Homo sapiens: one gene and its partners. The protein of the gene in region 3 purifies or fractionates together with the protein of the main gene of each other region. This does not show direct contact. Each region holds a gene or a part of one and is shown on either strand. Other genes may lie near its edges. The genes, in order: LYRM7, ACSF2, PPA2 and ACSS1.

What was found.
Region 1: the proteins of PPA2 (region 3) and LYRM7 purify together in Homo sapiens (affinity purification with mass spectrometry; 3 studies listed by BioGRID and IntAct, with this or other methods). This does not show direct contact.
Region 2: the proteins of PPA2 (region 3) and ACSF2 purify together in Homo sapiens (affinity purification with mass spectrometry; 2 studies listed by BioGRID and IntAct, with this or other methods). This does not show direct contact.
Region 4: the proteins of PPA2 (region 3) and ACSS1 purify together in Homo sapiens (affinity purification with mass spectrometry; 3 studies listed by BioGRID and IntAct, with this or other methods). This does not show direct contact.

Annotation. Positions count from the first base shown.
Region 1 is NC_000005.10:131,194,921-131,201,951, reverse strand, and holds part of LYRM7 (complex III assembly factor LYRM7), read right to left. Parts: intron 2,422-7,031; coding exon 2,351-2,421; 3' UTR 1-2,350.
Region 2 is NC_000017.11:50,421,429-50,429,217, reverse strand, and holds the start of ACSF2 (medium-chain acyl-CoA ligase ACSF2, mitochondrial isoform 2 precursor), read right to left. Parts: upstream 3,001-7,789; 5' UTR 2,957-3,000; coding exon 2,829-2,956; intron 2,314-2,828; coding exon of another isoform or gene 2,239-2,313; intron 1-2,238. UniProt on the Homo sapiens protein: Acyl-CoA synthases catalyze the initial reaction in fatty acid metabolism, by forming a thioester with CoA. Has some preference toward medium-chain substrates. Plays a role in adipocyte differentiation.
Region 3 is NC_000004.12:105,464,033-105,471,063, reverse strand, and holds part of PPA2 (inorganic pyrophosphatase 2, mitochondrial isoform 1 precursor), read left to right. Parts: intron 1-7,031.
Region 4 is NC_000020.11:25,055,123-25,062,442, forward strand, and holds the start of ACSS1 (acetyl-coenzyme A synthetase 2-like, mitochondrial isoform 1 precursor), read right to left. Parts: upstream 3,018-7,320; 5' UTR 2,981-3,017; coding exon 2,647-2,980; intron 1-2,646. UniProt on the Homo sapiens protein: Catalyzes the synthesis of acetyl-CoA from short-chain fatty acids. Acetate is the preferred substrate. Can also utilize propionate with a much lower affinity. Provides acetyl-CoA that is utilized mainly for oxidation under ketogenic conditions.

The DNA of each region.
Region 1 (7,031 bases), on a different chromosome or scaffold from region 3:
TTAGTTGGCATAACTGCTGAGCCCCAGGGGTCAAGGCTTTAGTGGACCATGACCATGCCACTGCACTCCAACCTGGGTGACACAGCAGAACTCAATCTCAAAAAATAAATAAATAAATTAGCATATGCTATATAAGAATAGAGTGCGACATCTTTCAGAATTTTGTGACAGTCAAGCCTGTTGTTGACATGTTTATATACTTCACAGGAACTTTATTTATTTATTTATTTTTGAGACGGAGTTTCACTCTTGTTGCCTAGGCTGGAGTGCAATGGTGCGATCTCGGCTCACTGCAACCTCCGTCTCCTGGGTTCAAGCAATTCTCCTGCCTCAGTCTCCCGAGTAGCTGGGATTACAGACATGTGCCACCACACCTGGCTAATTCTGTATTTTTTTTAGTAGAGACAGGGTTTCCCCATGTTGGTCAGGCTGGTCTAGAACTCCTGACCTCAGGTGATCTGCCTGCCTCGGCCTCCCAAAGTGCTGGGATTACAGGCGTGAGCCACTGCGCCCAGCCAGGAACTTTCAGGAACTTTATTGTGTAGTCTTATGGCATGAAAGTACAATATCATATCTACCTATCTGTATCAATATATCTTTTTTTTTTCCTTTTTCCTTTTTTTTTCTTTTTTTTTTTTGAGACAGAGTCTCACTCTGTCCCCCAGGCTGGAGTGCAGTGGCACAATCTCAGTTCACTGCAACCTCCACCTCCCGGGTTCAAGTGATTTTCCTGCCTCAGCCTCCCGAGTAGCTGGGACTACAGGCGCCCGCCACCATACCTGGCTAATTTTTGTGTTTTTAGTAGAGATGGGGTTTCACCACATTGGCCAGGCTGGTCTCGAACTCCTGACCTTGTGATCTGCCCGCCTCAGCCTCCCAAAGTGCGGGATTACAGGTGTGAGCCACAGCGCCCGGGCCTATATCAATATATCTTAAAATTTCTAAGCCACTATCTTTAATAAACATGTGAATTATTAATCTCATCTGCTACTAATAATGACTATAAGAAAGAAATCTGGAGTTATTTAAATTAATATGAATGAAAAATGGAACAGGGAATTCAGGTTAAAGAAAAAAGCTCAGTGATAAAATATTCAATAACACTAAAATATAGAATATATATTAAATTTAAATAACGTCAGCCAACTTTCCTCAAAATATGTCATATAGACACTAAAATAACTGTAAGTCAGCACATTTATATAGTGATTATATACTGCGATGACATTCAGCATTCTCTTAAAAGGGCAAATTTCAAATTTGAAACGACTTTCATTTTTCTCTAGGTATAATTTCTAGATACATAACAATGCTTGCATTGAGAATCTTGCAAAAATTAAAAACCCTGTATCATCATCAAATGAGAGAATTTATCAGTGAATGGGAGAAAACATACTATTCACTGAGAAAATAGAATGGCAAAGATACACAGATAAAAGAGAAACAAGAAGAATATTAAACAGTATTTTACAGTTCCTAGTGTTAGATGGTAGAATGCCAGGACCTTTTGTGATACTGCCCATCTTGTCAAGGACAGGACATGTGGAAGAAGAGAAGCCATTTAAGTTTCATTAATTAAAACGATGAGAATGTAGCCACCGATTACATTTCACACTAAAGTCTAACTTTGTCTAAATACAGCTAATTCTACTAAGGCCATATTAAATAGTTTGATCAAGGGCCACTATTTCCTCTTTAAACTAGGATTTCTTTATTCCATAGTGACCCTAGGTGACTATAATATTTTATTCATCTATTTTCAGAAAACTGATAAAAAATGTCTTCATAAGAACACAGAGATACTCTCTATCTCTAAAAAGAAACTGTACAATTATATATTAGCTACAGAAATAATCCCAGTGCTTTAGAAAACAAAGGCCACTTTCTGTAGAGAGCTGGCATACACTGTGATTTTTTTGACCAATTTAATATTTTTCAGGACTAAATATCATTTTAATCTAACAATTTAAATGTAATAATTGCATTTCACATGGCAGGAAAACTCACCAATTTGTAAAAGCACCACATTCTCAAATAGCTATGGTAAGATCAAATACTCATCAAGGTCAAAGATTGAATATATCTCCCTAAGCATTTACTTTGCTTTATGAAATTTGATTTTCAATGAAAATGAAATGTTTTCTTATCTAATTTCCTTTAGAAATACTTAATTATGTTCTTTAGTTCTCAGTAATGACCTTTTAACATGAAATTTAAATATGAAGCTATTCTGTAATTCATTCATTTTCAATATGCCAGTTCAGGGAAAATGTCTGCATTTCCAGGACTTTTGCCAGAGTTGTAGATTTTAAAGTTAAAAAGTACAAAGACTTGTTGTATTCTAGAAAACTCATTGCTTCTGAGTTGGTGCATCACAATATGGCACATTTTCTACAAGAAGGTCTTTCCTAGGGACCAGTTCTGAAAGAAAAAAAAAAAAGAGAATAATTAACATCACTAAAATTAGAATTAAATGCAAGGACACTCATTTCCCCCTAAAATTTAAAATAGTAAAATATCCAGTTTTAAGATAAATCTTCCAGGGATATTTTATTTCAGTTGATATCTAAGGTGGCATCCTTGACTCTAATTAGAATTAATAGCATTCTCATTTCAGATTATATAAAAACATATATGATCCACTTAACCCTTTATCATTAAATATAGCAAATCAAATAACTGAAGAGAATTCAGCTAAAACTTCTATTATTGGTCATTTAATTACCAATTACTGATAATGAAAACAACTGGAAATTTTGCTTATACTATCTACTATATGAAAAGCAAGACTGGTCTCCTAATTTAAAGATTCTAAATTTTAAATAACAATTGTTCTTAAAAGAGGGTGTTTTGTGTGGTCATATCAACTGGAGAATGCTACTGGAATTTAGTGGGCAGGAGCCAGGGATGCTAAACCTTCTGTAATGGGTGGAACAGTCTGGCATAGTGAAGAACTGTCCTGTCAAAAATGCCAATAGTGCCCACATTGAGAAATATCATAAAACAACAACAAAAACCTGTTGAGTCCTAGGTAAGACATCTTGCTGGAGTTAAGATAAAGCTCTTAAGATACAAATTTTTGGCCGGGTGTGGTGACTCACGGCTGTAATCCTAGAACTTTGGGAGGCTAAGGAGGGATGATCATTTGAGGTCTAGAGTTGGAAACTAGCCTGACTAACATGGTGAAACCCCATCTCTACTGAAAAAAAAAAAAAAAATCAGCTGGGTGTGGTGGTGCATGCCTGTAATCCCAGCTACTCAGGAGAATGAGGCACAAGAATCGCTTGAACATGGGAGGCGGAGGTTGCAGTGAGTGAGCCGAGATGGTGCCACTGCACTCCAGCCTGGGGGACACAGTGGCAGTCCACCTCAAAAAAAAAAAATTCCAAATTTTTGAGGAGATACATTGATTTCTTCTTCTTTTCTCCAGAAGAGCTGAACCTAGATGAGCTATCAATCAAAAAATGCTTGCACGACCTTCTACAAAATAACCTGCCTATACTTTTCAAAACATCATGGACATGAAAGACGAAGAAAGACTGAAGGACTGCTCTAGATTAAGGATACCTAAAGAGACATGATGACTACATGCAATGTGTGATCCCCAATAGGATACTGGTCCACAGGGAATTTTTTTTCCTTTTGCCATAAAATACATTATTAGGACAAATGGAAAGATTAAATGATAGCATTGCATCAATATTAATACCCTGGTTTTGGTCATTATATTGCAGTTACATTAGAGAATGTCCTTGTATATTTAGGAAATACACACTGAAGTATCTTAAAAAAATATACTCTAAGGTATTTCTCCAGGAGATCTAGACCCAAATGGGCTGTCATAATTCTAAAAATGTTCATTTGGGGTAAATAGGCATTATGTCTGCAACTTACTCTCAGAAAGTTCAGGAAAAAAAAATGAGGGAAACACAATAAGGCAAATATGGTAAAATGTTAGCATTTGTAGAATCTGGGTAAAGGAAATTCTCATACCCTTCAACTTTTGCACTTTTTTTGTAAATCTGAATTATTTCAAAATAAAAAGGTTTTAAAAATATATATATTTACACACACACACACACACACACACACACACACACACACAGTGGCCAGATGCAGCGGCTCATGCCTGTAATTCTGGCACTTTGGGAAGCTGAGGTGGGAAGATTGCTTGAGGCCAGGAGTTTGAGACCAGCTTGGGAAACACAGCGAGACTCTGTCTCTACAAAAAATTGTTTAAAAATTAGCTAGGCATGGTGGTGCACACCTGTATTCCTAGCTACTCAAGAGGCTGAGGCAGGAGGATTGCTTGAGCCCAGGAGTTTGAGATTACAGTGAGCAATAATTATGCTACTGCACTCCAGCCTGGGAGACAGACTCTCTCTCTCAAAAAAAAAAAAAAAAAAAAAAGACAGAAGACAACACTAAAACAAATTCAACCCAAAAGGCAAACTGAATATTTCACTTAATTAAGAAAGAACTGGTCTGACTAAGAATAGTGCTCTTATTAGCCAGATGATAAATTTGGCTTACTGAAATGAAAACCAGTTAAATAAGTATTATTTAACCATTGTTTATATCTCACTTGCTTTTACCAAACCTATGGAGATTTCATCAGAGAATAAATTGTAGTGTGCATTTTAACTTGTTAACAATGGCAATAATTTGTTTCACTTATCAAACCTATATGTGCCTATTTCATGCTAGACATTACATCAAGAAATTAAGATATGAAGGTGAATATATAATAGTCTCTTCAGCTTCCAGAAACTCACAATCTAATGGAAAAGATAGCTAGATAAACAACAAATTATAGTATAATGTCATGTGTTACAAAAGTGGAACAAGACTTTTATGGGAGAATGGAAAAATAAATGGTTAAATATACCCATATCACTTTAGAGTATGTTCAGTTCTGAATAACCAAAGTCCAAAAGCTGGTTTAAATAAGTAAGAGATTTAATTTTTCTCACATTATCAATAAATACAGATTAAAGGACAGGCATGGTGGCTCATGCTTGTAATCACAGCACTTTGGGAGGCCGAGGTGGGCGGATCACAAAGTCAGGAGTTCGAGACCAGCCTGGCCAACACAGTGAAACCCTGTCTCTACTAAAAATACAAAAATTAGCTGGGCGTGGTGGCAGGCACCAGCTACCAGGGAGGCTGAGGCAGGAGAATCGCTTGAACCCAAAGGCAGAGGTTGCAGTGAGCCGAGATCGTGCCACTGTACTTCAGCCTGGGCGACAGAGCTAGACTCCATCTCGGAAAAAAAAAAAAAGAAATACAGATTAAGGCAGTTCTGGGCTAGTGCTTGTCCTTAGTGATACTAAGGACCCAGGCTCTTTCTCTCTTCCTGTTCTGCTACCTTCCATGAGTGGTTTTGTCTTCACTGCTGCTTGTCATATCACATCTGCACTCCAGATGGGAAGAAGAGAGAAAAGGGCAAAAGGAGAGTGCCAGCTCAGCCTGCTCCTTTTAAACAGGAAAACAATGACTTTCTTGGAAGTAACACCGAATAGACACGGTTTATATAGACCAGAAAGGTGTCACATGGTCTGGAAAATAACTTTTTTTTTGCTTGGTACATTGCACCCTGAACACAATTTCTCAGTTAGTAAAAAAGAACAGGAGAAGCCAAGCACGGTGGTTCACACCTATACTCCTAGTACTTTAGGAGGCCGAGGTGGTTGGATTGCCCGAGCGGTAGTCCCAGCTATTCAGGAGGTGTGAGGCATGAGAATCGCTTGAACCCGGGAGGCTGAGGTTGCAGTGAGCCAAGATCGTGCCACTGCACTCCAGCCTGAGCGACAGAAGGACACTCTATCTCCAAAAAAAAAAAAAAAAAAGAACAGGAGAATAGATACTGGAGAGGCAACAAGCACAACCCCTTTGGCTATGCAAAATGCATATAAATCCTTCTTTCCATCTGTAGCATACATCCACTCACTACCTGTCCCCTCAGGTCTCATCTAGACTGAAATCAAGGATGTTTGGTTACAGTGCTAGTGTTTCCATTAGGTCCTGCTGAGCCTCATTGTTCTAAGGTGGAGATACTGGGGAAGATGCCCTTCTTTGGGGCTTTAAAAGCTTTCATAGTCTACTTCCTGGTGATAGGAGTTTAGGGGCCCAGGGGTGGCCTTAAGAGGTGAAAAGAGCTAGCCAGGCCTGGAGTTTCTTGGCAATACAATTCACTCAAAAACTTTATAAGCTTCAAATTGGTTTCCAGTCATTTCCATGCACAAGTAGCCACAGAAAAATAAGGATGAAGACTGTCATCCTTTGGTAGCAGCCTCTACGTTCTGCCCATCTCCTTAACCCTTACCTTAGGGGCCACTTCTTAAAGCAATGAAGAATAGTAAGTTCCAGTCAGTAAATGAATCATATATCTAATCTTTGTCTGGAAGAATGAGAAAGTCTTGAGGCATCGATCTTATTTCATGTTACAGCTCAGAATTTCCCTGCTTGTACTGGCTTTAGTTTTAGTGGATAAGAACAATTAGCATTTTTAACTCTCCAAGGCTCTAAATTATGGGACTCTTAATCAATTAGACTCTAGGCTGTAGACAGAATTGTGCCTTTTAGCAAAGTAATACTTTTTTCTATCTCTGCTTTGTGGGCTAGCTTAATCTGCATTCAACCTCTTTTTCAATTTTATTTATCATTATTATTATTTTTTGAGACAGAACCTTGCTCTGTCTGTCGCCCAGGCTGGAGTGCAGTGGCTGTGATCTCGGCTCACTGCAACCTCTGCCTCCCATGTTCAAGCAATTCTCCTGCCTCAGCCTCCCGAGTAGCTGGGATTACAGGCGCCCACCACCATGCCTGGCTAATTTTTATATTTTTCAGTAGAGACGGGGTTTCACCATGTTGGCCAGGGGGCTGGTCTCAAACTCCTGACCTCAGGTGATCTGCCCACCTCAGCCTCCCAAAGTGCCGGGATAACAGGTGTGAGCCAGCGATCCCGGCCAATTTTATTTTGCCTAACTCATATCACCAGGAAGTGGACTATAAAAGCTTTAACTGTTGGT
Region 2 (7,789 bases), on a different chromosome or scaffold from region 3:
AATGAACTAACTAGCTCAGAGGTTAGATAACATGCCCGAGGTCATACAACCAACAGGGAGAGGACCCAGGGCTGTCATCCAGGATAGTCTAACTTCAAAGCCCTTGCTCTTTTCTCTCAGGCAAAACCAGGGTCTGGTAAGTAATAGGCCTGGGTGTTGGGCAACAGGAAAGCAGGCTGTGTGTGAGCAGATCGGAGAAAACAGAGGACGAAAGTCCAAGCGCATTCCTCACCATGGCACTTGCAACACCGAATAGTGCTCACCTTGATTTATTTCTCCTCCTACGAGGCTGCAAGTTCCTGGCAGGGTGAGGACTGAGTTCTGTGGCCTCTATATGCACAGCATGTGCTAGCATGACGCAGAATCTGTTCTCAGGAATGTTTGCTGATGGTTTCAGCCCTGAGGCTTCTTTTTTCATTTTTATTTTTATTTTTTTGAGATGAAGTCTTTCTCTGTCACCCAGACTGGAGTGCAGTGGTGCAATCTCAGCTCAGTGCAACCTCCGCTTCCCAGGTTCAAGTAATTCTCCTGCCTCAGCCTCCCAAGTAGCTGGGATTACAGGCATGTGCCACCACGCCAGGCTAATTTTATATTTTTAGTAGAGATGGGGTTTCTCCATGTTGGCCAGTCTGATCTAACTCCTGACCTCAAGTGATCCGCCCACCTCAGCCTCCCAAAGTGCTGGGATTACAGGCATAAGCCACCATGCTTGGCCTTTATTTTTATTTATTTATTTTTGACATGGAGTCTCCCTCTGTCACCCAGGCTGGAGTGCAGAGGTGCAGTCTTGGCTCACTACAACCACCGCCTCCCAGGTTGGAGCAATTCTCCTGCCTCAGACACCCTAGTAGCTGGTATTACAGGCACATGCCACCACGCCCGGCTGATTTTTGTATTTTTAGTAGAAACGGGGTTTCACCATGTTGGCCAAACCGGTCTCCTGACTTCAAGTGATCTGCCTGCCTGGGCTTCCCAAAGTGCTGGGATTACAGGCATGAGCCACCCACCCAGCCTTTATTTTTATTTTTTGAGTCTAGGTTTTGCTCTGCTGCTCAGGCTAGAGTGCAGTGGCATGATGACGGCTCAATGCAGCCTTGAACTCCTGGGCTCAAGTGATCCTACCACCTCTGCTTTCCAAAGTGCTGAGATTACAGGCATAAACCACCTTGCCTGGCCTGAGCCCTGAGGCTTCTGAAGGGGAAAGTAGGAGAGAAATCAGGTAAAACCATCACAGTCAGACAATAAGGGTGCAGGCACAAGGGAGTGGAAGGGGCAGAAAGAAAGTAGGCCAAACACTCAGAAAATCATCTGTCTGGATAAATGAGTCTCCTCCTGACACAGCAATAAGAATTTCTCTGAAGCTTGGTGCTCTCAGAGGTCCCAGGGCTGTAGCAGGTAAGTGACCTGTTTTGTTTATAGATAAAAAAAAGTCAAAGGTCAGAAATGTTGCCATGTGGCCTGATTTATTACTTATTTATTGGTTTGTTTGTTTGTTTTCTATTGGGCAGCCTCCTGAGCCAGAGTAGGCTGAGAGACTTCCCCTGTGGCCTGATTTAGTGTGATAAAATATGTACACTTTGGGAAGTAACTTTCCTCAGAGTCCTCCCAGCCTGAGGGGGCAGCCATGAGTCCAGAGGAGAGGCTTAAGAGACTAGGGGGTCAGGGGAGGGCCGAACTTGTCTAGGGAGACCCTGGGAAGTAGTGAGTGACTTCCCAGGGTCACTGGGAAGAGGACCCCACTGTCCTCATCTCAATCCCATCTACTGACCAGCCTTGATCCACTTAGTTTTCTCAGCAAATTAGGCAGAGTGATGTTAAGGCATTGCATGCTTTCTAGCATTCAGAAATCAGCAAGTTCAGAAAGTGTGATCTTGGAGTTCTAGCCAAAAAGGAGTCTGCATGTCCCTCCAACTCTTCCTACTTAGCCTTTTTAAAAACAAAAACAAATCTAGTTCTCTGAGACACAGCTTTGTTCTGACTTCTCCCTTTTCCATGTCCAGGCCCACACCCCATCTGATGTTGCTGAAAGTGCTGTCCTGACCATAGACTTAGTATCTGGCCGAGTTGAGTGGTAGGACAGGCTCAGTAGTGCACAGGGCTCCCCAGTGGTGCTGCTGAAGCTAACAGCCCTGATAACATGAGTGGCAGCCTGCTCTCTGTGTCTCAAGCACTTTCACATTTGCCATCTCACGGGGTCCTCCCAAGGACTGGTCACACCGGGAAGGCAGCTTTACTTACTGTGCTGCTGCAGAGGCAGTGAAGCTACTGGGAACTGAAATCCTCTGCCTGCCAGCTTCCATCCCACCCCTTGCACTGAGGACAGAAGGAAATAGGCCCAGGAGTAGGCAGCAAAGAATTAAAGCCATGTTAGTGAGCAGCTGATGAGGAGACAGGAGACTGCTAAGTTTAGTGGCCTGGGTCGGGGAGACTGGGGCTGATCCCCAAGTTTGCCCATGAAGGGGTTCCAACTCAGAGGCAGTGTCCTGGGGGTACAGCCCAGGCCTTGGCCCTTGCCCCTCCCCATCGGAATATTCTCCTTAAAGCCCACACTCCTTGCCCTCTGTGCCCATAAAGGAGAAGGAATCGAGAGTCTTGGACCAGAACTCGAAGTCACTGCAGCCACCAACCAAAGCCCCCTCCCCACCCAAGTCCACCAGGCCAAGCCAGCTTTTCCTATTGCCTAGGTGCTGGCGGGGGGCGGGGGAGGGGCGGGTACCTTCCCCCCAGTGCACTCGTCCAGAGGTGGGGCTTCCGAAGCTCGCCGGGACCTCCAAGTTCCTCTCCCGGGGAACTGCCCCGCCCCCTCTCTTCCCGCGGGGGGCCAGTACCTGAGGAAGCGGACACCCTGCAACCTGGCTTCCTGCCAACTCCGAGAGAGGGCGGCCCGGGCCCCCAGCACCCCCGAGCTCCCGGCGCACAGCCTCCCCAGGCGCAGCATCCCGACGTAGACAGCCATGGCTCGCTTTGCCCTGCGTCCCGGCCCGAGTAAACTTTTAAAGTGAGCCGGGGCGGGGCGGGCGCGCAGCGGGCGGGGAGGCGGGGAGGGTGGCCTCTGCCTATGGGGTGCGGCGGATTCGGTCTCCGCCGGCGGGGCGGGGCGGGGCGCGGCGGCGGCGACTTCGCGCGGGGCCACCTTCCCCTCCGACCCCGCGGCCCTCCCCCTCCCACCCTCGAAGAATAGCCCTGGTTTCCTCTGGATCCGAAGGCCCCAGCTGCAGTCCGAAACAGATCTTCCTCGCGACCATCCTCAGGGGCCTGGATGTTAGAAGCGCAAAAATTTGTTGATTTCCTAGAGGGAGAGCCAGCAGCACATCCGTGAGGGGCCAGATGGCAAGGTCAAGATCCATCCATCCCCTGCCCCCTCGGGTCACGTGCTGGCCCCGCTACTTGCGAGCCGGGGGCCAAAGGAGCAGGCGCGAAGCGTCCTTGAGGCATGCCAGCTGGAGCAGAGGGCCCCGCGGGGTTGGGGAGGCAGCCAGAACAAAGGGTGTCGCGGGTGAGCCCCCTGCGGGCCCGCTGGCGCCAGAGTCCCAGCTGAGGCCAGATGTCAGCTTCAGAAGGAACACCAGTTGTACCCCATCTCACAGGAGGCATCCTCCCATCCCTCCTCGGCGCCTCTGCCTTGACCTTCTGCACAGGGTTGGGGGCCGGACACGTAAGGTGGCCTCAGGGACTGGGACCTGTGTATTTCATCCTCCATCTGCCTGTCTTGGGGCCTGTGGCACAGTTCCCTGTGCTGCCCCAGGTGTGAATGGAAAGCAACCCTATGCCCCTCCTTAGGGTTCCTGAGGCCCAGGGGTGAGTGGGGTACTAAGACCTGGGCAGAGCTGCGGGACAGAGAAGGTGATAGCTCTGGTCCTGGCTAGGAAAAGTGGCACTGGGCACCAAAGAGTAGCACAGTTTATACCTGTTCCAGGTCCACACTGCCTCGGCCTAGCCATGACTCTTCCTCTAGAGAAGGAGCTGGAGAAGAATGGGGCAAAGGCCCTGGCAGTGTGACCTCCCCTCTCCTGACTGGAGGAGATGAAGTAAACCCTGCCAGGCAGAAGGGGTGGCTGAGAGTGGAGCCTGGCCTGAGGTGACCTTTGCCCTTATCTGGGAACTCTGGCTCCACTTGGGTCATGAGAAGGAGTCCATGCTGGGCCTCTTTATGATCTTGAGCGTGACCTCAAATCCTCCCTGGAACCCCGGTTCCTAGGGAGGGTCCCCACACTTCAGTTTCTGTGGGGTTGGGGCAGGAAGAGACAGAGGAACAAAGAGATCACCGGAGGCTGGGCCTGCAAGGGTGTGCTTTCCTAATTAGACTAACTGTCTTTGATAGCGGACCAGGGAATGTGGAGGGCTGGGGCATTCACAAGTCTGGGTTCCCAGCCGTGGCTGGCAGGCTTAGCCTCTAGCATGCTGGGTGACCCTGGGTAAACCACTGTCCCTCTCTTGGCCTATGAAGTGTGGGGTGGGTACTGATCTTGTAGGTCCTTCCACTCTTCTGGCTAGTTTGAGGGTCAGTCCTAGAGTGGGAGAGAAGTGAGTTCCTCCTTGAACTTTGCTCCAGCCTCGGCTTTTCAAGACACTGGGCTTTCCTGACTCTTCCTAGGTGCACAGGCCGTGGCATCATAGCCATCAGTTTCAGGGTATCTTGTACATGCCAGGCTCTTCAAGGACATTTTCTCTGACCCTCACAAACACCCTGCAAGGAACAGGCATGGCTTGGAATGTGTCTTTGTTTTTATGGATGAAGAAACTGAATCCCAAAGAGGTTCAGCTTCTTAAACATAGGCCAAAGCTCTGCCAGTAGTCTCTTTGTGGCTTTGGGCAAGTCACGGGGCCTCTCCAGCCTCGTTATCTGTCAAATGGGGATAATAATACCAACTTCACGCAGAGGGCTGGGTAAGAATTGAGTAGGTGGCACAGAACTGGTAGTCGGCCAGTTTTCAGTGATTGTTTCTTTTTCCATCCTCTCCTTCCTCTTGTGTCTTCACTCTAAGACCTTCCTCTGTGTAGGAATTGCAAACCTTTTTTAGGAGGGAGAATTGTTTTATTTGTGCAAAGCCCTGGTAGGCACTGGTTCTGTGGATGGGGAGGAGGGCTGGGAGAAAGTCAAGACGGCTGGTGGAAGTCCGTGAGTCATGGTGGGGGAATCACGTTGACCCGCATTCTTTGGCTAGTATAAGGAAGTGGGGAGCAGGGCAGTGGGCCATCCAGGCTCTCCAGCTTCCCTTCCCTTCCCTTTAACCAATTAAATTCCCCGTTGCTCCCCAAGGGGCCTTCTGCCTGAGCCATCACATCTCCTTTATGCTGCATGTGACTTGCATGATTTATGGTCCCTGTAATTTGGCTCATGCCATTGGCTACCATGAGAAAGCCCTTATTCCCGCCCCTTTGCCCATGTCTTGCTTCTGTGCTTCAAAAGCAGGCTCAAAATGTAAACACCATTTATTGATTTTTTTTCTTTCATAACATCAACCTACAGAAGACCTAGTCACAGTTACAGAATAGAATGTAAATGTAAGTATCACTAACTTTGGAAGTTACATCTGATAGTAGTTGAGAGGGAAGGGGTGGGGGAGAGTATAAAATAAAAAAAAAGGGTATGTCATTATGTACAAAAATAATAATAAAACTATAGTACCAGCACTTAGGGAGGAGAGATGGGGTGCAAGTACCCATTTATCAAACAGAAAATCTAAAACTGGCAAAATAAGTATGTCATTTAGAGGCAAGTAGCAGAAGAAGATAAATCAGAAATCGTTACAATAGTTCAAATGATTCTCTTTGGACTTAAATAGATATTTCACCAAATAAATATATATATGTATGTATGTATGTATATATTGACCCCAAGAGTTTGAGGCTGCGGTGAGCTGAGATCACACCACTGCACTCCTGCCTGGGTGACAGAGCAAGACCCTGTCTCAAAAAAAAAAAAAGAACACCCGCAAAAAAACAGAAAATAACAAGTATTGGTGGGGTTGTGGAGAGACTGGACACGTGTGCATTGGGTGGTGGGAATGTAAAATGGGGCCACCACAGTGGATGGTATGGTGCTTCCTCAAAAAATTAAAAATGAGTTATATGATCCAGCAATTCTACTTCTGGGTATATACCCAAAATAATTGAAAGTCGGGACTCCAACAAACATTTGTGTACCAATGTTCACAACAGAATTGTTCCCAATAGCCAAAAGACAGACACAACCCAAATATTCATCAATGATTGAATGGATAAACAAATGCAGTAGATCCATACAATGGAATACTATTCAGCTTTCAAAAAAGGAAGGAAATTCCCACACATGCTACAGTCCACATGAACTTTGAACACATTGTGCTAAGTGAAATAAGCCAAACACAAAAGAATAAATACTGTATGATTCCATTCATATGCGACACCTAGAGTAGTCAAATTCTTAGAGACAAAGTGGAATGGTGGTTGCCAGGGGTTGGGGGTGTGGTGGGGGAATGGGGAGTTATTATTTGTTTAATGGGTATAGAGTTTCAGTTTAGGAAGGTGAAAGGTTTTTGGAGATGAATGGTGGTAATGGTTGTATACCAATGTGAATATACTTAATGCCACTGAACCATAACCTTAAAAATGGCTAAAATGATATATTTTATTTATGTCTATTTTTCCACAACTTTTAAAAAAGCTTTTCTTTGGGGCATAGCAGTGGGAGGAAGAGTGAGGGCAGAGAACAGGCTTTTGTTAAAAAAGCTCTTTTTGGCCTGGTGCGGTGGCTCACACCTGTAATCCCAGCACTTTGGGAGGCCGAGTCAGGCGGATCATGAGGTCAGGAGATCTAGACCATCCTGGCTAACACAGTGAAACCCTGTCTCTACTAAAAATATAAAAAATTAGCCAGGCGTGGTGGCGGGCGCCTGTAGTCCCAGCTACCCAGGAGGCTGAGGCAGGGGAATGGCGTGAACCCGGGAGGCAGAGCTTGCAGTGAGCCAAGGTGGCACCATTGCACTCCAGCCTGGGCGACAGAGCAAGACTCAGTCTCGGAAAAAAAAAAAAAAAAAAAAAAAGCTGTTTTCTTATATTATTTTCTAAGATGGTGTATATTATTTCTCTTAATAAAATTTTTTATTAACATGCCTGAGGGAGGCTTCAATCAGTTACAGGAACTAATGTGTTTGATGAGGTTTTCACTGTAAAAAAAATGAGTGCAAAGAGGTTACTTAGGCTTGGAATCAACTTCAGTGTCAGATCTGGAAAGAATCCAGCCCTAGTGCTTTTTCTGTCAATGACCTTGAGCAAATCCCTTTTCTCTGGTGTAATTTTTCATAGCTCTCTGTTGTAATTGACTGTCTCCAAGTAGTAAATAAAAAATGGCCCTTTTAAAGAATTTCCTTCACTGTGTGTTTGAGAACTGAGCTGTCTAATAAGAAATGCAGTGATCATGAAGGAGAGGTGGAAAAAAAAGAGAGACCGCTGGCAGCCACAGAAAGAAAAGGGGAGAGGAAGTTGAGGAAGGAAGTTTCAATTTTCAAAGATATTGAAATGACTTGGAACAGAATGTGTATATTCTGCTAATCAAGCCAATTAGATCCAGTAGCCAATATAAAAAAAAAGGCTAATAAAAATTGTTCTAAACACGGATGTTTCTCATTCTCAAACTCTCAAACTGAAAGTGAAAATAAGGAACTTGATTTGAACTGCTGTGTAGAGTCAAATTATCTTTTAGTTATCTTTTTTTTTTTTTTTTTTTTTAAGAGACTGTCTCACTCTCACTTGGGCTGGAGCTGGAGTGGTGCAGTAGGGCAATCATAGCTCACTGCAGCCTTGAACT
Region 3 (7,031 bases):
AAGAATTTGCCTATTTAAGTTCTGGAAAATTCGGATGTAACTTCTCCAAAAACTGAACCACAGAGTACTTATTTCTCAGAACATTTGTTAACATCTTAGTGACATCAGGGTTATGATTTCTGCAACTTCCAGAAGCAACTGTGCTGTAACAGTTCTAAACTAATAGTCAAACCACTTAAGTTGTAGTCCTGACTTTACCGTCTTGGACAAGTCACTCGACTGAATTAACCAGAGGCATCCCTTACCTTCAGATGACATCCGGTAGCTCAGTTTCTCCGTAAATAAAATGGGGATAGCACTAGTAATTTTATAGAATTGCTGTGGCAGTTAAATGAGACTATGTGTGTAATTATCAGTGTCTCACACGTGATAGGTATTTAATAAATGTTATTTATTTTTCCCTTTTGACTTTAAGACATTAGACTAAAATCCTTATTATTAGATTCTGTGAAGGGAGAAAATAAGGTGATGTGATTGATTATTTTGAAGTGTTCCTGTTAATTTATAGGTTTCAGAAGGTTTTTTGTTGTTGTTGTTTATTCATTTTATTTTTATTTTTTTGGTTTGTTTGTTTGTTTAGAGATGGGGTCTCATACTTTTGCCCAAGCTGGAGCACAGTGTGCAATCACGACTCACAGCAGCCTTGACTTCCCCAGCTCAAGCGATCCTCTCACCTCTGTCTCCTGGGTAGCTGGGACTACAGGCATGCACCACTGTGCCCGGCTTCCTAGGTCTTAAAGTTTTAATGGGTACTTGCAGTCTTTTAAATTAACTGTGAAATCATAATGAAGTTAGACTCACTTATATTGAGCCAAAGACCTAATGCTGCATGCCAGTATTCCTTTGATATCTTGCGTGTTTTTGTTTGTTTTGTTTCGTTAATAACTTGAAATTTTATTTTAGATTTCATACTGTTCTCATAGGATAGGGAAAAGCTATGCTTTCCATAATTAGGAATTTTGTTATTATGGGATAGGCAACTGGTTTACTTAGAGAAATAGTGCTGTGGATAATTCAAGTTGCTTTTATTTAGTCTGGGAATGAACCAAGCAGTTCTTTAAAATTAATTTGCTTTGTCACTTATAGTAAGCATGTGCTTGTGTTGAAATTACTGTAGGTTTTCTTTATGTCATTTGGGTAGTAGGAGGAATCTGCCATTGAAAGTGCTGTATCTTTGGACTTAAAAGAGAACTTCCCGTGAATAATCCACAAAATTTGTTTGAGTCTTAAATATGAGTTTCTGTAACTTTTTAAAGTTGGCCTATATCATAGAACTTCAACTGATATAATGGAACACAATGGGTTTTGTGTGAATATAGAAAAAGTATTTTATTTGATTTTTCAGTCCTTAAAACCTTAAACGTTTTCTATATCAGTGCTGTGAAATAGGAATTGTGTGATCTATATGGAACAGAGGAAGCATTTTTATTGAAGTTTTTAGGCTCCTTTACATTTCTTAATCTTTTTATCAGAAAATAAAACAAAGTTAGCTTTAGTCATTGCTGAAGCTTCCAGTAAGAATCTCTATAAGTGGTTTTGTAGTCGTGTGTAATCATATGTTGGTATATGGCATACATTTAGCTGTCTGGTATAGATACATAAAATTAGGTATGGTTTTCACATTCCATTCAATTTTCTCACTTGCTCTAGTGTAAGTAATAAACTTTCATCCTGATACAACTTGCTCTTGTGAGAGAAAGAATCACATAGATAACTTAGAAAATGCTAGAATAAAATCTGATTTCAGACCAGTTGAAGGGAGAATTTTGACCACTGTTTGGCAATATCGTGTAGATTGATGGGCCTGATAGAGGTTAGCAATTAATGCCTAAGGACACAATCTGATTTTTGACGACAGTGAAATACCATGGCAAAAATGACACAGTGACTACAATCATTTATCTCTTTTCCCCTATAATAAATATCCTATTAAAGTGATAGTAAGTGAGGATAAGAAAGGGTAACCCTAAAACAACAGATAAGGAGCCACCAAAGCTTGAGATTTTGAAATATGTATAAAAGATTAAAAAACCAATGGAGATATGGTTATTAATGAAGCAGTGTGGAAGAAGTCCCAGCTTAAGTATATGTGTTCAGGGGACGTAGTTTAGGGAAAAGCCGAGCTGCTGCAGAACCTCAGAGAGGTTGTGGGTGTGTTGATATAAGATAGGATAGAGAGTTAGATGGATGTAGAACTTAACACAGGGGGATTAGTTTAAGTTGTACTACAAATAGTACACAAATGTTTCCCATGCAGGTCTAATGCATGAGGGTTGTGTTAGTTCCAACTGTAAAAGTGAATGAAGAGCTGAGAGGGAAGTAGGACCCCTGATGGTGTTGGTGCCCCAGCAGTACTCTGCATGCTGGTATTTGGGGACCCCAGCATAACAGCCAGCCTCCTACCCATTCATCTCTGTGGGAACACAGAGTTCCCAGTGATTTTTTCTAGTCTTTTTAATATAAACCAAATAGTCAAGGATCACCTAACTTAGGCTTTCATCGCTACTGTTCTACCAACTGCTTTTTGTCAGGGCTACCTGTCACCTCCATGCTGCGACCTTAATGGTCAGTTTGAAGTCCTCATATGACCTATCAGCAGTACTTTTTACAGTTCATCACTTTCTCTTTGAAACACTTTTTTTGTCTTTCCCAGAGGAAACTGCTTTCCTCTGGGATGCACTTTGTCTTAGTTTTGATGCTTCTCCTTCACATTCTCCCTTGCTGAACCTTTGTCATATTTCCGAACTCTAGCCTTTGAAATGCCCAGGGCTCAATCCTCAGCCCACTTCTCTATCTATACTGCCTCTCTAGGGCAGGTGTTGGCAAAGTTTTCTGTAAAGGGCCGGATAAGGAATACTTTAGGTTTTGCGAACCATTCAGTCTCTGTCACAACTACTCAGCTCTGCCATTGTAACATACAGCCATGGACAGTAAAAGTATGACTGTGGTTATGTTCCAATAAAACTATATTTACAAAAATAAAACCAGGCCATGTGACAGATTTGGCCCATAAAGCCAGAGTTTGCTGACCATTGCTGTTGCTCTGGGTGATCCCATCAGGTCCCATAGTGTTAGACGCTGTTTATGATTCCCCAATTTATAACATTAGCCGCATCTCTTCTTGAACTCAGAATTTACACATCCAGCTTTCTACTCTGTATTTCTACCTAAATGTTTAAGATACAACTCAAGATTAACAGCACAAAACAGAACTCCTGACTCCCCACCCTCACCGAACTTGTTTCTCTCTTTAGTTGCTAACCCATAACCTGGGCATTCTTCTTGTCACCTTTTACTCTTATCCCACAGCTAACTCATTAGCATATTTTTTTGAAATGTACCAAAAGACAATTCCTTCTGTCCACTTCCACCCTTCTCACTTTCTGTTTCACCATCATCTTTCCCTTGATCAGTTGTAACCTCCTGATTCTTCACCCTGCTTCCACCCTTAGCCCTGTATAGTCTACTTTCCATACAGCAATCACCTTCATCCTTTTAAAATGTAAGTCAGATAATGTACAAGCTCTGCTGAAAATGCCAGTGGCTTTCCATTTCACTCAAAAAATTTTTTGAAATATGTACCATAGCATGTAAGGTCCTACTGGATCTAATACTGGGCTCCTCTCTGAATTCATTGCTTGCCACTTTTCCTTTTGATCAGTGTCCTCCTGCCATCCTGGCCTCCTTGCTGTTTCTCAGACATGCCATGTATGTTCTTTCCTCTGCACACCTGTGCTTTTTATGCCTTCAGTGCTCCTCCCTAGAGGTCTACTTGATCTCTTCCCTCACTTCATTCAGATCTGTGCTGAACTGTTACCCACCAGAGAGATCTTCCCTGACCATTCAATATCAAATATTACTCCTTCTGTTACAGTAGGTAGCTAGTCAGGCATGAGCAGGGCAGAAGAGGGCTCCCCTCCCTCAACACACACCAGGAATGACAGGCAAACATCAGGTGATGGTCAGGCAGTTGTTAACTGTTTCTCTAAAATATTAATTGGTTGCAGCCTGCACCAGGGAAAGGCAGTCTCCAAATAAACAGAAGCACCTGAAGCTGGTGATCAGCAGCTTCCCATGAGATCTCAGGAACTGGGTGAGTGGGCTCAAGCGTTTGCACTAAGAGGCAAAATGGCAGAGTTTGGTATGTGACCTCCTAGGGACATTCGACTGGTAAGGGAAGAACACCTCAAGTGAACACGCGTACAACTCCAGTAAACACGTTGCACATGGTCCCTTTCCCAAGTGCTGGGAGGCTACTGTGTGTGCAGACAGCCTGCCCCAAGGGAAGAATCAGGGGAGATGGGACACAAGATCCTGGAAGTATGCTAACATATAAAACCCCAAGTTGAAAGGTCAAACCGTGCATTTGTCTTTTCAAGTTGCCCACTTTGCCCTCTTCCAAGTGTACCTTCCTTCCCTTTGTTCCTGCTCTAAAGCCTTTTATTATAATAAACTGATTCCATCTGTAAAATTGCCTCAGCCTCTCCTTCTGCCTTCTGCCCCTCAGTTGAATTCTTTCTTCTGAGGAGGCAAGAATTGAGATTGTTGCAGAGCCATAGGGATTTGCCATTGGTAACGCTTCCATTATTCATTCTTCACTTTCCCTAATTTGTTTTCCTTTATCTTTATAGTGCTTATGATATGTGATAGAATAAACACATAATCATTGCTTCTGCACCCCAACTAGAATGTGATTTCCATAGGAACAGGGAATTGGAATTTGTATCTAGTATCTAGAACCATGCTTAGTACAGTGCATATATTCAAGAAATATTTACTGAATGAATTTAAGGAAAACTTAAAAATTAAATGGGAAAAACAAGAAACTTGAATTTTAGAAGGTCAAGTGGGTGTTCTCTATTACATCTGCTATAAAAAAAAGGAAGAGTTGGCTGTGAAGAAATGGCAATCAAGACCAAGACCTCTTTAGCAAATAACTTGTTAAAACAAGTAAGTCAGTAGAAGGTGTAGTGGGTTGAATGGTGTTCTGAGACACGAAGTTTGTGGTAGTTTCTTGCAGCAGTCCTAAGAAAAAGAATATAGATGAATTAGAAGATAAGGTAAATCTATCAGAAAGTAGAACAAAATGTCAGAGATAGAAAAAGGAGGCAAGAAGAAGTGACGTAGAGATTGAATCCAGAAAGTCCAACATTTGACTCATATGGGTTTCAGAAGGAAAGAACAGACAAAATGGAGAAGAAATTGTAAAAGGGATAATAGAAAAAAATCTAAGAATTGAAGGACCCAAGTTTTCTGACCCCCCCAGTCACATTATTATACAGCTATTGAGAGGATCCCACATGTCTTGCTGGGGGGTGGTCAGCTAACAGGCCTGCAACACTGAATGCTCGAAGACTGGAGTAATGCCTTTGAAATTCTGAGAGAAAAGAGTTTTCCTCCTAGAATTTTCTACCCAGCCAGCTGTCAATCTGGAGTGAGAACAGAGTAAAGACATTTTAGACATTTAACAACTTGAGAAATTGGCCTCACATGCAATCCTTCTTACAGAACACTTATTAGGGATATGCTTCTGCAAGACAAGTAAACCAAAAAAACGTGAATGCATGGGATCCAGAAAATGATAGATCTACACTGGAGAGCAAAGAAGCAGTCTTAGGATGCCCGGAAAGCATCCAGTTCATATTGCAGCCTGAGGATAGAGGGTTCCTGAAGGAGCTGTTTGGGTAAAGAGAGGATTCCATAATTTTGATGATATCCGTGAGGCATTGGAATAACTTATAGACGTGATTATGACAATGTAAGAAAGATAATTAGAAACACGAAGAAAAATAGAAGCTGAACCAAAAAAGGAAATTTAATTATAGCAGCATCCTCACCAAAAATAAACACATAGACAACGCTTCTCACACACCTGAGTGTAAGAATTATTTGGGATGTTTGCTAAAAATACAGATATTCATTTCTCCCTCCTTGAGATTTTGATTCACTAGATGTGGGATGGTGGTTCAGGGATCTGCATTTTAATGAGCATTCCAGGTTTTTCTTATCTAAGAGAAATTTTTGATATATATAATAGGAAATGCATAGAAAATTCAGTATGATTACAGAACATTCTATCAGCCTTGATATGAAAAAATAAATATGCAGAAGACAAAAATTAGAAGAATGAGGAAAGGGAGGTAAAAGTCAGGTTATTGATGTTAAGAAATACTGTATATTTGTATTAGTTTGTTTTCATGCAGCTGATAAAGACATACCTGAGACTGGGTGATTTACAAAAGAAAGAGGTTTATTGGACTTACAGTTCCACATGGCTGGGGAGGCCTCACAATCATGGCCGAAGGTGAAGGGCATGTATCATATGGTGGCAGACAAGAGAGCTAGTGCAGGGAAACTCCCCCGTATATAATCATCAGATCTCATGAGATTTACTCACTGTCACAAGAACAAGACTTGCCCCCATGATTCAATTATCTCCCACCAGGATTCCTCCCACAACATGTGGGAATTCAAGATGAGATTTGGGTGGGGACACAGCCAAACCATATCATTCTGCCCCTGGCCCCTCTCAAATCTCATGTCCTCACATTTCAAAACCAACATGCCTTCCCAACAGTCCCCCAAAGTCTTAACTCATTTCAACATTAACTCAGAAGTCCGCAGTCCACAGTCTCATCTGAGACAAGGCAAGTCCCTTCTACCTATGAGCCTGTAAAATCAAAAGCAAGTTAGTTACTTCTTAGATACAATGGGGGCACAGGTATTGGGTAAATAAAACATTCCAAATGGGAGAAATTGGCCAAAACAAAGGGGCTACAGGCCCCATACAAGTCCAGAATCCAGCAGAGCAGTCAAATATTAAAGCTCCAAATGATCTCCTTTGATTCCATGTGTCTCACACCCAGGTCACGCCGATGCAAGAGGTGGGTTCCTGTGGTCTTGGGCAGCTCTGCCCCTGTGGCTTTGCAGGGTATAGTCCCCCTCCTTGCTGCTTTCATGGGCTGGATTGAATGTCTGTGGCTTTTCTGGGTGCATGGTGGAAGCTATTGGTGGATCTACCATTTTGGGGT
Region 4 (7,320 bases), on a different chromosome or scaffold from region 3:
AAGTAAGGTCTTTAAACTAAATTTGTCCTAATTTTGCCCTTTGACATGAGTCATCCCCATCGGGCCCTGTCCAAAGTCCTGACTCACAGACTCTGCGAGGAATATAAAATTGTTGTTATCTTGTGTCACTAAACTTAGGGGTGGTTTGATGTACATCAATAGTAACTAGGACAGAATTCAGTTACATACGGCCCTTGTTTTACAGATGAGGAAACATGCAAAGTACAGTACAGGGAAAGCAAGAAATCAACCCGAGTCATGATTCTAAAGACACCTGGAGCCACGAAACTGTGTTGCGCCATCCACAGCCCATCATTTGCTTGCTGTTTGTTTAATAGGGCCAAGGCCAGGACACTAATCCCAATTCTGTTTTAGAAGTGCCTTCATCTGCCCTGGTTTGAGGCGTACAGGCCAGTGGTTCTCAAGCCCGAGTGTCCTCTGGAGCATCTGAAGGGCTCGTTATAAACACAGGTGTCAGGTCCCATCCCAGGGTTTCTGATTCCAGATGTCCAGGATGGGCTCCAGAATTTGTATTTCTCAAAAGTTCTCAGGTAATGCTGATGCTGCAGGTCTGAAGACCATGCGTTGAGAACCACTGGTATTCTTGAGGGGGTGAGGTGAAGCTTTCTTCAAGAGTGATATTCCTTTGGAACAAGCCATCTGACTTTATCACACACAGCTGACAGATCAGACCAAAGTGTTCTCATCCATCCCACGACTTTCTAGATGCTCCCAGAAGAGTCATGGCCTGGCCTGGCCCTTTTTCATACTGTCTTCTCTATGGTTTGCAGACACCGGCAAAGGAAAGAGATATTGCTGACCCATGAACAGGAGGGCACGCACATCCCAGGGGAGAAAGCTGCTGAAAAGCTGTTTTTCAAGTTAGTTTTCTGAAGCTCAATTTCTGGCTAACGTAGCCATAAAGGCCATATTATCAGAAGAAATAAGTGAAGGAAAAGGAGACAGAAGAATGCTTGCTGACCACACCCTGATCCTGACCGAGCGAGGTTCAGAAGGTCCTTGCTGTTGGCCCCAGGAGGTCCGCCCCACTGTCTTATCTGAGTGGGGCTGCAAGTGTGCACAGGCCAACTGTGAATGTTCCCCATGACCTTGGCCTCACAAGTCCAGAGCAGGTCACTTTCCACCTCTGTCCTTGGGCAAGCTGCTCTAGTCTCCTTCAAGGGCACATTGCCCCAACTCTGCAAACCAAAGGGTTTGGTTTTTTTCCCACTAGTTCAAGGGCACTTGCTGCTGACTCAATGTTAAAGAAAACACTTATCTAGTAAGTGACTCATTTTAATTAAACCAGCAAAGTAATATACAATTTCGGGGAGTGGGGGAGGTCCAAAGTTCCTTCCAATTTCTTTGAAAAATAACTGCAAGACACTATCTATAATTGTATGACTATTTCTGAAGTTATCTAAAATCGCTACTGCTTATGGGTCACCAGTAAGCGCTGGGTCTGCTGCACACCTTGCAGCACTCAGCCTAACCTCTGAGCATGACTGCCCCCATCCTCACAATGAGGAGACTGAGGGCTGGGGGGGCAGAACAACAAGGACAACTGAGGGAGGAGTTGGAGAAAATGGGGCCCTGGTGACCCTGCCATAAAGACCCGCAGGTCCTTTCTTAAACACTCCCAAATCCAGCAAGCTGGTTATGACCACCCTTCTGGTCTGCATCCCTCTGATCAACACCGTGTCTGCCAGCCCCTCCCCGCAGGCCCCACACCCAGGCCCACCCTGCATCCGGAGCCCACCTCGCACTTGGCACCCACCCTGCGTGGCCAGCCCTGCCTGCAGTTCAGGGCCTCCCCCTCGGTGCCCAGTCAGCGCCTTAGGTGGGGGCGAGGGTGCTGTGTACGACCCCCAGCCCCAAATCTTAGCAGAGCAGCAGGGCCTCTGCTCAGCAAGTTCCAAACAACTGACCACCAGTCAACTGTTTGGGGCCGACGTCAGACCCCGCGGGTCCAAAGCAGGCCCCAGGTCGCTGGGGTGCAGTTCTCTGAGGCCGAGAACGAGAACGGGGAGGCCGCCGTTACTTCCTTCCCGTCCACAGGCCCCAGGCCCCAGGCCCGCAGCGAAGAAATAACTGGTTCCAGCTGCCACGCCGAGTTTCCTCCTCCCCAGGTCGCCCGCCACAGCTCTGTTTGTTTACGTGGGCAGGGCTTGTCCCCAGGCTGATCCCCGGGCACCGCAGCCCGCAGTGACAACCGCCACCGCTTTGTTTTTCCCTCCACCCCGGTATGGGAACGGGAAAGTCCCGACTCCGGGGCGCTCGGGTGTAGCCCGCGGCTCCCCGCCGGCTCTTGCTCAGCGGCGCTATGCACCCGGTAACGCAACTCTGGAGTCCGCCGAGCGAGGAGCCGCGCCGAGCAAGGCCAGCAGCGGGGCGTCCCAAGCGGCCGCCGGGTCCCCGCGGGCGCCGGCCCGAGCTGGGCACGTGGATCTGGGGCCCGATGGGATGAGGGACGGGGTGACGTGGAGCCACTGCTTAGAGCGGGCGGGGCGGACGGAATACCGGAGGAGGGGCCCCTGCAGGGCTGCGATCCGCGCTGCCCGGGGACGGCTGCCGCTGGCGAGAGGCTCCGAGTCCCCTCGGGACCCAAGAGTTGGGGGCGTCCTGGGTCTCCCGAAGCCCACTCACCAGAGACATTTAACTGGCCTCCCAGGAACCAGCCGATCTTGCCAGTGCTGAAGTCGCAGTCCCAGACGGTGTGGTAGGGGGTGTCCCACACGAGAGTGTCCCGCGCCAGAGGCCCCCAGAAGGCGGCCGGCTCCCGGGCTGCCTGTGCACTCAGCGCGGGATACGAGCCTGGCTGTGCTGCTGCTGCTGCAACTGCGGGAGCGCTGCCCGAGGGTCCCGAGGCCGCCCTGCGCGGCGCGCTCACCCCGCACGGCGGCCGCGCGGGCTGCCCCGAGAGCCCTCGCAGGCTGCCCAGCAGCCTCCCGACGCCGCGGCCCAGGGTGCGCGCCGCCATCTAGGCAGGCTACCTGAGCTCTCTGTGCTCCCAGAGTGGGTGCCTCACGCCCGGGGCGCCCCGTGGAGTCTCCGCGGGCCCCGCCCCTGCTCCGCCCTTCCGCCACCATCCATTCCTCCAGGGCCCCCTCCCGGAGCCCGCCCGGGTCCCACCCCTTCTTCTGCTGCCCGGGAGAGGGGGGGCCGCTTAGGAAGAGGGGAGCAGCGTGGGGAAGGGGTGCAGGGGAGCGCGGGGCGGAGCAGGGTCCCAGGCCCTGGCCCAGGCGCTGCGCTCCGGTGAGTCTGCGGTCCCACCCGGATGTTCCTCGAGTCGGCCTGTTTTGGTTTCAGTTTGCACGCTCTCCTGCAAGCCCCGACAGCTTCTTCGAGCTGCCAGAGGCACGTGCGGCCCAGGACCCCAGGACGCAGGCTCAGGGCCTGGGGCGAGGGGACCCTCTGGGATGGGGAGGAGCCGGGAGGGAGCCGGCACCAACGTTAAGGGGGCTGGTGCACCCAAGCGCACTGGTGGGTCCCAAGACAATAGGTCGGTCAGTTCCGCATCTCAGAGGCTGAAGCCAAGGTTTTCATGCCTTTGTGCGCCCCTGAGAGTGAACCCCACCCCTGGAGTCTCAGCAGCACGCGAAAGGGGCTGGCGCCTTTCTAGGCTCCCGCCTAGAAGCCAGGAGGCTGCGCAAGCCTGAGTCCGTGTTCTGGGTCCCATGCTCCAGCCCCCCAGCTGCCGGCCTCCGTCCTGGCGGGGGTCACGTCCTGCTGGGGGTCGGTGGTGGGTGATATGGGGCGATGAGGACTTTCTCCAGTTGCTGCAGCATCTGTAGCCTGAGTTCAAACTCTGTGACCTTGAGCAAGTTCCTTAACTTCTCGGTGCCTCGTTTTCCTTTTGGGGAAGACGGAAGTAATGTCTCCCTGGGGGGCGGGGACGGCGGGGGTGGGCAGCTGCAGTAAGGAATACATTGGACAATGTCTGTCAAGCGTCTACCCTTGCGTGGCCCCATAGTAAGCTCAGTAGTGGGGATGATGTTTTTGCAGCTGTGGAGCCAGGAAGGACAGAAGGAAACGTATAAAACTGGTCTCCACCGAGTTCTTAAATATTCTGACACCCAAGAAGTAAATTCATAACAAACGGGTAAACACAGGGAAGAGAGATTTTGGAAAACTGGTTTATTGAGTTCTCTGTGATGGGAAAGTTTCTTTCCCTTGAGCTGTAGGGCTTGCAGAGGGGAGGAGCCTGCCATTGGAGGAGCCTCTGCGTGGGCTAGCCACCAGCCCCTGCTGGGGAATGCTGCTGTCTGCCAGAGAAGACAGGAGTGTACCTAGAGCTGGAGAATCAGTGACATCTACTAGCATAACACATGCCCTGCACAGTGCTAGCGCTTGACCTGCATTTTCTCCTTTATTTATTTATGATACTTTTTTAGAGATAGGGCCTGTAGCCCAGGCTGGAGTGCAATGGTTCCCATCACAGCTCACTACAGCCTGGAACTCCTGAGCTCAAGCGATCCTCCTGACTCGGCCTCCTGAGTATCTGGAACTACAAGCGTGTGCCACGGCACCCGACTAGTCTACTTAATTTGAAACTTATCTAGTGCTGTCCATTCCCACCAACTGTCAAACTCCAGGTGGAAAAAATGAGGAAACTGAGCCCAAATAAATAAAAGGACTTACTAAAGAGCATGCAGCTGGCTAAGGGAAGAGCAAGACTAACACCCAGTGCCCCCAGTGGGGAGCTCGTTGGCCTAAGTTCATTTGAATAGAATATTAAAGACACCCAGTACAGGGCACTGAGAGGCAGAGGTCAGTGAGTAGTAAAATTGTAAACTGAGAAAGCTCCTAACTGTGGCAGGGGGTCCCAAAGACGGCCACCAACTCTTCCTTCCCACGCCTGCACCGCCTGCACATGATGGTGTGCTGCTCTGTCCAGAGGAGGACCCTGGCTGGCTGGATTGCTTTGGCCAGTACAGCCTGGTGGGAGGGATGCTGTGACAGTTCCATGTGGAGGTCCTGAGAGACCCCGTAGCCCCAGCTTATCCTCCCATGGAACCCAGCTGCGAGCTGTGAGGAAGCGGGGCTGGCCTTCCAGAGGAAGGGACCCAGGGCGAGGATGAAGCTGTCCCATCCACAGCCAGGACCAACTCCCAGACAAGAATGACGCCAATGTGGAGGCTCCTGTCCCAGCCAAGGCAGCCTCATGAGTCACCCCAGATAACACCTGGGATGCAAAGGAACCTCCCAGTCCACTTACAGAATTGTAGAAGGAATAAATTTAAGCCACTAAATTTTGGGATGGTTTGTAACTCAGCAGTGGTAACTGATACAACAACTGAGGCTGAAAAATGCATGGTTCTTTCACTCACTGACTATTGCCTCTCAGTGCCCTGTACTGGGTGCCTTTCTTCTCTCTGCCTTCCAAGTGTTGAAGTGCCCAGGAGCTCAGCCCTCAAATCCCCCTTTCTCCCCTGCCCCCTAGGAAACAGCAGCCAGCTCTCTAGCCTCTCACTTTCATATTGACACCTCCCGCCTGGACCTTTCCTCCACATCTCAGTCCTGTATTCAAATGTCTCATTCACATCTGAAACATACCAAGTCCTGGGATTCTTCCCCACAACACGGATCTTCCATGTCAGTGAATGGAAATGGCATTTTCCTGTTGTTTGGGCTCATACCCTTGTCATCCTAGATTCCTCCCCCTCACACTCCACATGCAGCCTGTCAGCAAATCCTGTGACTCACCTTCAGAACACCTGCAGCACTAACCTCTTCCCCCATCACCATCCCCTCCTGCTACCATCCTAACCATACCTATCTCTTTTAGGATTATTCAGTAGGCTTCAAATTGCTTTCACCCTTGCCCCTGACAGCCTAACCAGCAGCCAGTGCAATTCCTTTAAAACAAGAGTCAGAGGAACTTGCTCTGGAGCTTGGAACAATCCAAAGGCTCCCCAGTCTCCTCAAAACAAAGACCACATCATTCCCTGGCCCACAGGCCATAGCCTCACTACTTAACGTGTGGTCCATGGGCCAGCAGCATCACTTGGATACTTTGTAGAAATGCAGAATGCCAGGCTCCATCTCAGACCTGCTGCCTCAGAATCTGCATCTTAAGCCCCAGGGGAGCTGCATGCACATTCACGTTAGAGAAGCGTTGCCCTCCCTGATCCAGTGTACCCTCTTCCTCTGCTCTCACTCATTGGGGCTCCAGCACATCAGCCTCCTCCTGTCCTTCCCATCACCCAGCAGGCTCCCACCTCAGGACTGCCACACGATGTCCCTTCTGCCTGGAATGCTCCACCCAGTTGTCCACAGAGACTCCCCCTCACCTCCTTCAGGTGTCTTCAAACATCCCTTCATCCAAGAGCCCTTTCTTCCCTGTCACCTACATAAAGTTATACCTCCGCCCTCATTCCCTAGTCTCAACCCCTGACTTGACTTTTCTCCATGGCTGTTACTTATTAGCTCTGTGTTTATCTTCCTAGTCCTCCTACCAGGAGGGAGCCCTGTGAGAGAAGAGACCAGCTATGCTGCTTGTGACTGGGCCTGGCACCAACAGCCACCCCATGGAGAGTGCACGGCAATGGCTCCTTCTTCCTACTACCTTCGTTTCTAAGGTCTTCTACAGTTGCAATGAGAAAAGTAGGTAGAACTAACTCTGTTTTAAAATAAATGCTACCTCGTTCCTTCTGGTTGGATAAGAAGAAGTGATCATTTCAGAACCAAACATGTCAGAACCAACCAGGTGGTGCAGAACTGCACTTCTTGCTGCCCGAGTTACCTAGAGGTGGCCTTGAGACCTTCCTTCTGAGTGTCACAGCCCAGGCCAAGGTCGTCCCCACTGCCTCCCTCCTGGCAGCCAGTCATCAACTCTTGCAGAACAAGCACAAGATTGAACAAGCACAAGGAGCACCCACTCTTGGCCCTGCATCCCGAAGGACCCTCAGAGGTTTGGACAGGGCAGCAGGCTATCTGGGCAGTGCTGGTCACATCTTCTCCCTAAGAAGCCGCTGGCCTCAACTTCAGGAGAGCTCACTTGGAACGCTGGATGCTGTCAGGCAGGGGCTGCAGACACACGAAGTGCTTAGAGGGCAGGGTTCTTGGGAATCCGGGATTCGCTTCTGTCTCGGTACTAATGTTTAGGCCAGAAATGCCAACACAGCTGTGACTACTGACCCTACAACCTGCAGCAGTGAATGCTCTTGCCCTTGCTGTACATGTGTGAAAATAAGCAGGAGGACAGAAGCTCACCCGAGGCCACCAGCTAGTAGGTAGCAGAGCCATAGCGTCCAGAGCATCTTAATTTAACAGCTTTAGGGACAGAGCCCACCAACACGGCCTTCGCCATTTGCCTTC